Linked DNA regions of Homo sapiens. The protein of the gene in region 2 interacts with the protein of the main gene of each other region in a pairwise test. Each region holds a gene or a part of one and is shown on either strand. Other genes may lie near its edges.

Region 1 (3,600 bases), on a different chromosome or scaffold from region 2:
GTAGAGCTAACTTGGCTGAATCAGAGATCTGGATTTTGGGAACAGGCTAACCTGGTGAAAATCCCTGCTCCACTTCCAGGCTGTGCTTTTAAGGAATTTGGACATACTCCTTATCTTTCAGTACTTTGCTTTCCTTACCTAAAAGGAGGATAACATTCCTTCAAGGCTGTAAATAGAGTGCTGTGTGTAAAGCACTCGGCACAACGCGTTTGTGTGGGGGAGACACAGTATGTGCATAAGAATTGGTAGATGATGATGGTGATGTTTATGAAAATCCAATCATGAATAGCCGGAGGCCACTGTTGTCAACGAGTGATCCCTGTAACAGCGACGTTAGCTACACTGAGAACTTACACATGCACATTCTCAGGCCCATTGCAGACCTCCTGAAACGAGAACTCGGGAGGCAGGGCCAGGCAATTGGCACTTTGCCTGAAGCACTCACGTTTTGAGAACACCTGTCAGGTAACAGGGAACCACTGAAAGTTTTTGGACGGTGGAGGAATGCGATATAAATGACTGTTGATTCACTGGCATTAAAGTGCCTAACTACCGACTGGCTTCCGAGGTTGCCGGAAGAAACCTGTTGGTTGATCCTTAGTGATCTCCAGGTTACAAAATGCGGGTTGGTACTAAGGGCCCCAAACACAGTGCTCACCTACCGAGCGCAGCCAGGAGCGCAGCGCCAGACAATTACAGGAGCTGTTTTGGATATGGCCGGGCAGCCCAGCGATGCTCAGCGAATCCCACAACTACAACCACAACCGTACCACACATTTAGCCTGCAAAAGCAGAGAAAGGAAAAGAAAACCGTGCAGGGAAGCCGGAAACGAGGGACTTAAGGGTCTCCTCTCTAGGGTGTGGGAGAGTGGGGGATGGGGCGAATGGGGCGAGGAGGGGGCGAGGATCGAGGGAGGCCCCTCCTCCGCTCGGCAACACCGGGTTCGGGTCCCTCTAGAGCCGGGACGCGGCCGGCGGGACACACCCTTGCCCTGGGAGACGCGAGGGTCCATGGCCTCTTAGTGTCGGTCCAGCTCAGTTTCGTGTCATTTGTTGTTAGCGCGAGGTAGGGGCGTTTCCCCACCCCAGCTCCTCCCCGGGGAAATCCCAGCCCGCTTCCTCCCCGCTCCTGCAGTTTTCGGGAGCGCCGTGCGGGGTCGAGCGCGGAGGCCGCACCCTGGGCGCCGGGCGTCGTGTCGGGACCGCTGCCCGCGCTGCCCGCCGGCGCGGCCATTGTTCGAGCCCCACCCCTGATGAATATTCACGCCGCGCGGGCGCCTCGGCCCGCGCCCTACCCGGCAGGGCTCGGGGTGTGAGTGCGTTTCCGCCGGTTTTTCCTGCCTGAGGAGGAAAGGGGGAGCTGTTTTCTCTCTCCTCAGAATATATTTTTGGTGTCCCGTTTCTCCTCCTCCAGCGCCGCCGCCGCCCCCTCCCTCCCCACCTCGCTCCCCGCCTCCGCCTCCGCCTCCCGGGTTATCTTTGTCTCGCTGCCTCGCGCTCACTCGCTCAACTCGGCGCCGCCGCGGCCCCACGCTCCGGGCCCGTCCTCGAGGCGCGCGGCGCGGGGCGCGGGCGCCGGGGCCTGAGGCGGCGGGCGACGCCCGGGGGCCTGACGGCCGGCCCCGCGCCATGGTGTGAGCGCCGCCGCCCGTGCACGCTCCGTCCGCCCTCCGCGCGGCCCGGCCGGCAGAGAGCCCCGAGCGGCCCGAGAGCGCAGCCGAGCCCGCCGCCGCCGCCCGCGGCCCCGCGAGGAGAGTACCGGGCCGGCTCGGCTGCCGCGCGAGGAGCGCGGTCGGCGGCCTGGTCTGCGGCTGAGATACACAGAGCGACAGAGACATTTATTGTTATTTGTTTTTTGGTGGCAAAAAGGGAAAATGGCGAACGACTCCCCTGCAAAAAGTCTGGTGGACATCGACCTCTCCTCCCTGCGGGTGAGTGGGCCCGCGAGCGGGCGCGCGGGGAGCGGGCAGCCGGCAGCCGGCAGCCGGGGCCGCGCCCAGGTCGGCCGGGCGCTCGGGCGCCGCCGTGGGCAGAGCCGCGGGGCGCGGCGGCCCCTTTGTCTTCCTGTGCGGGCTGGTGCGGGGCGGGCGCTACCCTCTACCGCCCCCACGCCCCGAGCCCGCCGCGCGACCCCCGGGCGCTGGGGGACCGCGCGGGGCGAAGCCCACCTCTTTTGTCACCGCCTTTTCTCTCCAACTGCCTTGCTTGATTTATTCATTTTTTTGGCTTCTTTTAAATGATAACCCCTCCCCTCCTTCCTCTCCAGGATCCTGCTGGGATTTTTGAGCTGGTGGAAGTGGTTGGAAATGGCACCTATGGACAAGTCTATAAGGTCGGTGTGGGCGCCTTCTTTGTTTCCCGTGGCATGTGGAAACTTCTTATTGGGGGACGAGGAGAGGGTGATAAACATGCTGCTGACTGGAGGCCACGCCGCTTGGCCAAAGTTGGGAGAGGGGTTTCTTTCGCCTTGCAGTCCCTCTGTTTTTGCACACCGAGTTTATATTCAGACTGGCCTTAAAAGACCTCATTTCCTGGCTTTGAGATAAGGAAATAAGCTACACTCTTAGGCATGCACTTTACTTCGATAAAATGGAAAAGCATTTTTTAAAAATAAGACAACCTGAATTTTTTCTTTTTTTCCCCAAATCCGGCCTTCTGAGTTTGTGTGTAAATTGAAATACAGTGGAGGCGGGCCTTGCCTCTGACGATCCTAAACCACTGCTTTGGCCATCGTGAAAATTGTCATCATGTTTCAGCCTCCACTCAGTGCTTGCCAGTTGCTCAAGGTGGGGAGTTTGGCGTTACCTGGGAATACTTTATAACTGTGGTTGTCATCCTTTCTATTGATGGATACGTATTTTGGGGAAGCAGGGAGGAGTGTGTGTTTGGGCAACAGCAGCAGGAAGAATTACAGTGTGGGGATTATAAAATCTGAATTCCAGGAATAACCTGTTTGACAGCTGTGTAATTGAAACAGAAATGACAGAGAGCGAAGAGAATATAGAGGATGCCCTGGTTTACACCCACCCAGGTCTTTCTCTTTTTTCAAAATTTTAACACCCACCCTCCACCCCAGCGATAAATGAAACTAGCAAATCTGGAGACTGAGTCTGCGCTGAGTAGCTGACACCTGATGTGACTAACAGTGTTCATTTTATACATTGTACAGTCTAGAGATTATGAAAGATGTGTAGGGAATGGAGGCGCAGGCCTTGAAAATTCAGAACGGAATGTTAAATTTTTCCTGTCTTAATTTGTTTCTCAATACTGAACGTTTTCTAAAAGTTTAATCTGCACTGGGGGAGTGTTCTGTTAGAGTCGGTACAAGGTTAGGGAAGCAGGGCTCTGTGGTTCACCATGAAGAATTGTCATTGTCTCATTAAAAATGGGTGGAGTTGGGGGGGTTGGAAGCCGACTGTAGACCTTTTCTTAGGCTAGATTAAGTGTGGATCTTATTGTCTCTTTTCTGCGTTGTGAGTAGAGTTTATCTATCACTTGAACGCCTCTCCTTAGCCTAGACTTCTAGCCTGGGTAGTGTACTGTACTGGACTGTGGTCCGAACTTGGGTCAGTATTCTTAGGTGATCTCAAGTGTATTAGC
Region 2 (3,840 bases):
GTCTCTGCTAAGAATGTGTGCCAGGAATGGGGCCTGGCTTCCTCGTCGAGTGCGGCTGTCCGTGGGTTTCTGCTAGACAGATAACGTTCTGAAGGAGTTAAACTTTCACAGCTCCTCCTCCTCCTCCTCCTCCTCTATATCCCTTACCTCGCCACGTTCATCACTGGTCATTTTGCTGGAAGGGAAGCCCTGGTATATTCTTACATTGCTCTGGAAGTGAGCTTTAGCCCAGCGTCGCCAAACTTACACCTTAATTGATCCCAGATGAGAAGGAAAAGCTATTGCTCTTACCCCACAGTCTTCCCTCCCTGAGGCCAGAAGCAGGTCACGTGTAAAATGGTCTGCTCTCTGCTGACAGTGGCCTGAGTCTCCCATAGTGTCTGCTGAGCTGGATAGTCCCTCTCCAGGGAGCTTTGCAGGGGATGGGTGATGAGACATGGACATGGGGACGAATTCCTCTCATCTGGAATCGCAGACACAGCATGGAGATATGAGCACGCGGCATGGGAAATAGGCTTCCTCAGCCCTTCAGGATCAGGGAACGTGCCAGAGATGCAATGACATTTGGCAGCAGTTGAGAGTATGAGTGCTGTTGATGAAATAAACAGAGGCCTTTAAAAGCAAGGCAGGAAAAATGCTGGGACGAGTACAGGAACAGAAAACCAGCCATTTCTCCAGGTCTATTCAAAGACGTAGCAACACTCCCTGCAAACCCCAGGGCCTCATTATCACCACTCAGGGCAGTGGCCCCGCACAGCACCTGCACAGTTGCCAGAGGAGGCCTCTCTATAGGAAGTGCTGCTTTCTGTTGTGGATAGAGTGACTGGCTGGGCCTCTCTCTGTGTTTCTCCCCTAGTCTTCAGGAATATGAATGCCTTTTCCTTCAGTGCTACTAGGTGCAAATATGCGAGTTAAGGGACAATGCCAATAAAGTAGCCGCAGTTTCCTGGCTAAAGGAACTGTGCAGGTATTAAAAACCCACCGATCTTTAATCCAGGTTCGTGGCAGGGGGACTCCTTTTTGTTGCAAGATTGTCTGTGTGTGGAAACCCTGGAGAAAGGCCACACGTGCAGTCAGCAAGCCGAGTCACCAGGCACAGAGCCCTTTCTCCTGATCCCCTCCTCTTGTTTCTATTCCCAGGCCTCATTATGTATAATGTCACAGACACACACGCCCAGGAACATCCCATCACAGCCAGGACAGAAGCGCCAAGGGAGGTGCTTTGCACAGATTCCATCTTGGAGTTAGAAGCACTTGCTCGGTGCTTGCCAACTACAAATAGCCCCATGCTGGAAAATGATGCTAATTAGTATGCCATTAAAAAGGGTGGGGGGACCACCACCCACAACAAAATGGCCGTGTGCAGGCCTGAAGCCCTGCCCTGAGGGCCACAGGGAAGCATGGCCGCTAATGCAGCCTAATTCACTTTGTTTGGCAGAGAGAGCAAGCTCGCCATGTTGCTGCGGGAGTCTCTGGGGAACATGAACTGCCGTACCACCATGATCGCGCACATCTCGGCCGCGGTCGGGAGCTACGCGGAGACCCTGTCCACCATCCAGATTGCATCGAGAGTCTTGAGGATGAAGAAAAAGAAGACGAAGGTAAGGAGCTCGCGGGGTGGGGGGGTGGTGGATGAGGGAGCCTTTGGAGCCGTGCCCTGGAACAGAGTCAGAAAAAGCCAAATCAACGTTGCCAATCCCCCAGCATCAGGAGATGTGACTTGGAGCTGACAACACGTGGCTCAGGGTCCACTTTGGGGCAGGGAAACCTTGGGGCTGATACAAAGTCATGTCACCTCCCCACACCTGGTGCTGGCCCTGGTCACCCAGCCTGGACCCCTGACCGGAAGCACTTGGTCCGCTTTAGAGAGTACAAATGGATTGCTACCTCAAGAGGAAAAACGTTGGAGGGATGGAAAATATTGTTTTTCTCATGCATGGCCTCGGTCCTGCGTAGGTGGAGACTGTGTCCTTCGAAGGCTTGGCACCAAAGAGGTTCTCAACTCCCTGCTCTCAGGGCCCCTCCCCTGCTGCATGTCCAGGAGTCACTCCCTGGCTGCTGCTTTTGTCCTGGCAATTCAGTGGTTTCTGGATGATACTGAGTCTGCTGGACATCGCTGGGCTCATTTTCTCAGGCAGAGGCCAAGCCAGGATGGTGGCAGGGTGGCAAGTAGTTGAGAAAACCATCATGATCGTGGCCACTCAGTGGCAGGGGCAGCTGCTGAGGTGGGGGCCTTTTTCCCCCTTCTCTGTTTTGTACCTTTTTTATCTTTAAATAGCGTTTCTTAACCAGAGTTCCACGGCACAGGGTGCCAAACATTGGTGAGCCAGCAGCCCTTAGCTGGTCAGGCAGGGCCTGGATGGTCACCCCCTTTCCTGAGCAGCTGTTTCCCCAGCGTGCCACACGGGGCTTCCCCTTCACAAATGCAGTGGTGATGTGACACCGGGCGCGCGGGCATGGCACCCCGAGTGGCCCACGTGCGGGAGGCCAACGGGGGTGGCTGTCAGTAGCCTGTGTCGTCAGGGGCCTTCACCACTTGCCGCGCACAGCTGGGCTCCCGGGGAAACTGCCACGGAAAGGCCACCACATTAACTGCCGTCTCACTCACAGTACACATCCAGCTCGTCCGGCGGGGAGAGCTCCTGCGAAGAAGGCCGCATGCGCAGGCCCACCCAGCTGAGACCCTTCCACACCAGGGCCACGGTGGACCCTGACTTCCCCATCGCTCACCTGTCCAGCGACCCCGACTACTCCTCCAGCAGCGAGCAGTCCTGCGACACCGTCATCTACATCGGGCCCAACGGCACGGCCCTCTCTGACAAGGAGCTCACCGACAACGAGGGCCCCCCAGACTTTGTCCCTATCGTGCCAGCCCTGCAGAAGACCCGGGGCGACAGCCGGCCCGCAGAGGCAGGAGAGGCTGCAGCCGGCAAGTCAGAAAGGGACTGCCTGAAGTGCAACACGTTTGCCGAGCTGCAGGAGAGGCTGGACTGCATCGACGGCAGCGAGGAGCCCAGCAGCTTTCCTTTCGAAGAACTGCCTGCTCAGTTTGGGCCAGAGCAGGCAAGCAGAGGCCCCCGGTTAAGCCAAGCAGCGGGGGCAAGCCCACTCTCTGAGTCTGATAAGGAAGATAATGGGTCCGAAGGTCAGCTGACCAACAGAGAAGGCCCTGAACTCCCAGCCTCCAAGATGCAGAGGAGTCACTCACCTGTGCCCGCCGCGGCACCCGCCCACAGCCCCAGCCCGGCCTCACCCAGGAGCGTCCCGGGCAGCAGTAGCCAGCACAGCGCCTCCCCACTCGTGCAGAGCCCCAGCCTCCAGAGCAGCCGGGAGAGCCTCAACTCCTGCGGCTTCGTGGAAGGCAAGCCCAGGCCCATGGGCTCCCCCCGGCTGGGCATCGCCAGCCTGTCCAAGACCTCGGAGTACAAGCCACCCAGCTCTCCTTCCCAGAGATGCAAAGTCTACACCCAGAAGGGGGTCCTGCCGTCTCCCGCCCCACTGCCTCCCTCGAGCAAGGATTCCGGCGTGGCGTCTAGGGAGTCCTTGCTGCAGCCCGAGGTGCGTACGCCCCCGGTTGGAATGAGCCCCCAGGTTTTGAAAAAATCCATGTCTGCTGGGAGCGAAGGGTTCCCGGAAACTCCTGTCGATGATGAGCAGCAGGCAGCTACTCCTTCAGAGTCCAAGAAGGAGATCCTGAGCACCACGATGGTGACGGTGCAGCAGCCACTGGAGCTGAACGGTGAGGACGAGCTGGTGTTCACGCTGGTGGAGGAGCTGACCATCAGCGGGGTCCTGGACAGCGGCCGCCCCACCAGCATCATCAGCTTCAACAGCGACTGC

The links. Proteins that work in one complex are often made in the same cells at the same time.
Region 1: the proteins of KIF26B (region 2) and MAP4K4 interact in a two-hybrid assay, tested with the Homo sapiens proteins (one large-scale study listed by BioGRID and IntAct).

The regions. Positions count from the first base shown.
Region 1 is NC_000002.12:101,696,207-101,699,806, forward strand, and holds the start of MAP4K4 (mitogen-activated protein kinase kinase kinase kinase 4), read left to right. Parts: upstream 1-1,500; 5' UTR 1,501-1,874; coding exon 1,875-1,931; intron 1,932-2,058; exon of another isoform or gene 2,059-2,236; coding exon of another isoform or gene 2,237-2,266; coding exon 2,267-2,332; intron 2,333-3,600.
Region 2 is NC_000001.11:245,682,795-245,686,634, forward strand, and holds part of KIF26B (kinesin-like protein KIF26B), read left to right. Parts: exon of another isoform or gene 1-1,438; coding exon 1,439-1,601; exon of another isoform or gene 1,602-1,657; intron 1,658-2,610; coding exon 2,611-3,840. UniProt on the Homo sapiens protein: Essential for embryonic kidney development. Plays an important role in the compact adhesion between mesenchymal cells adjacent to the ureteric buds, possibly by interacting with MYH10.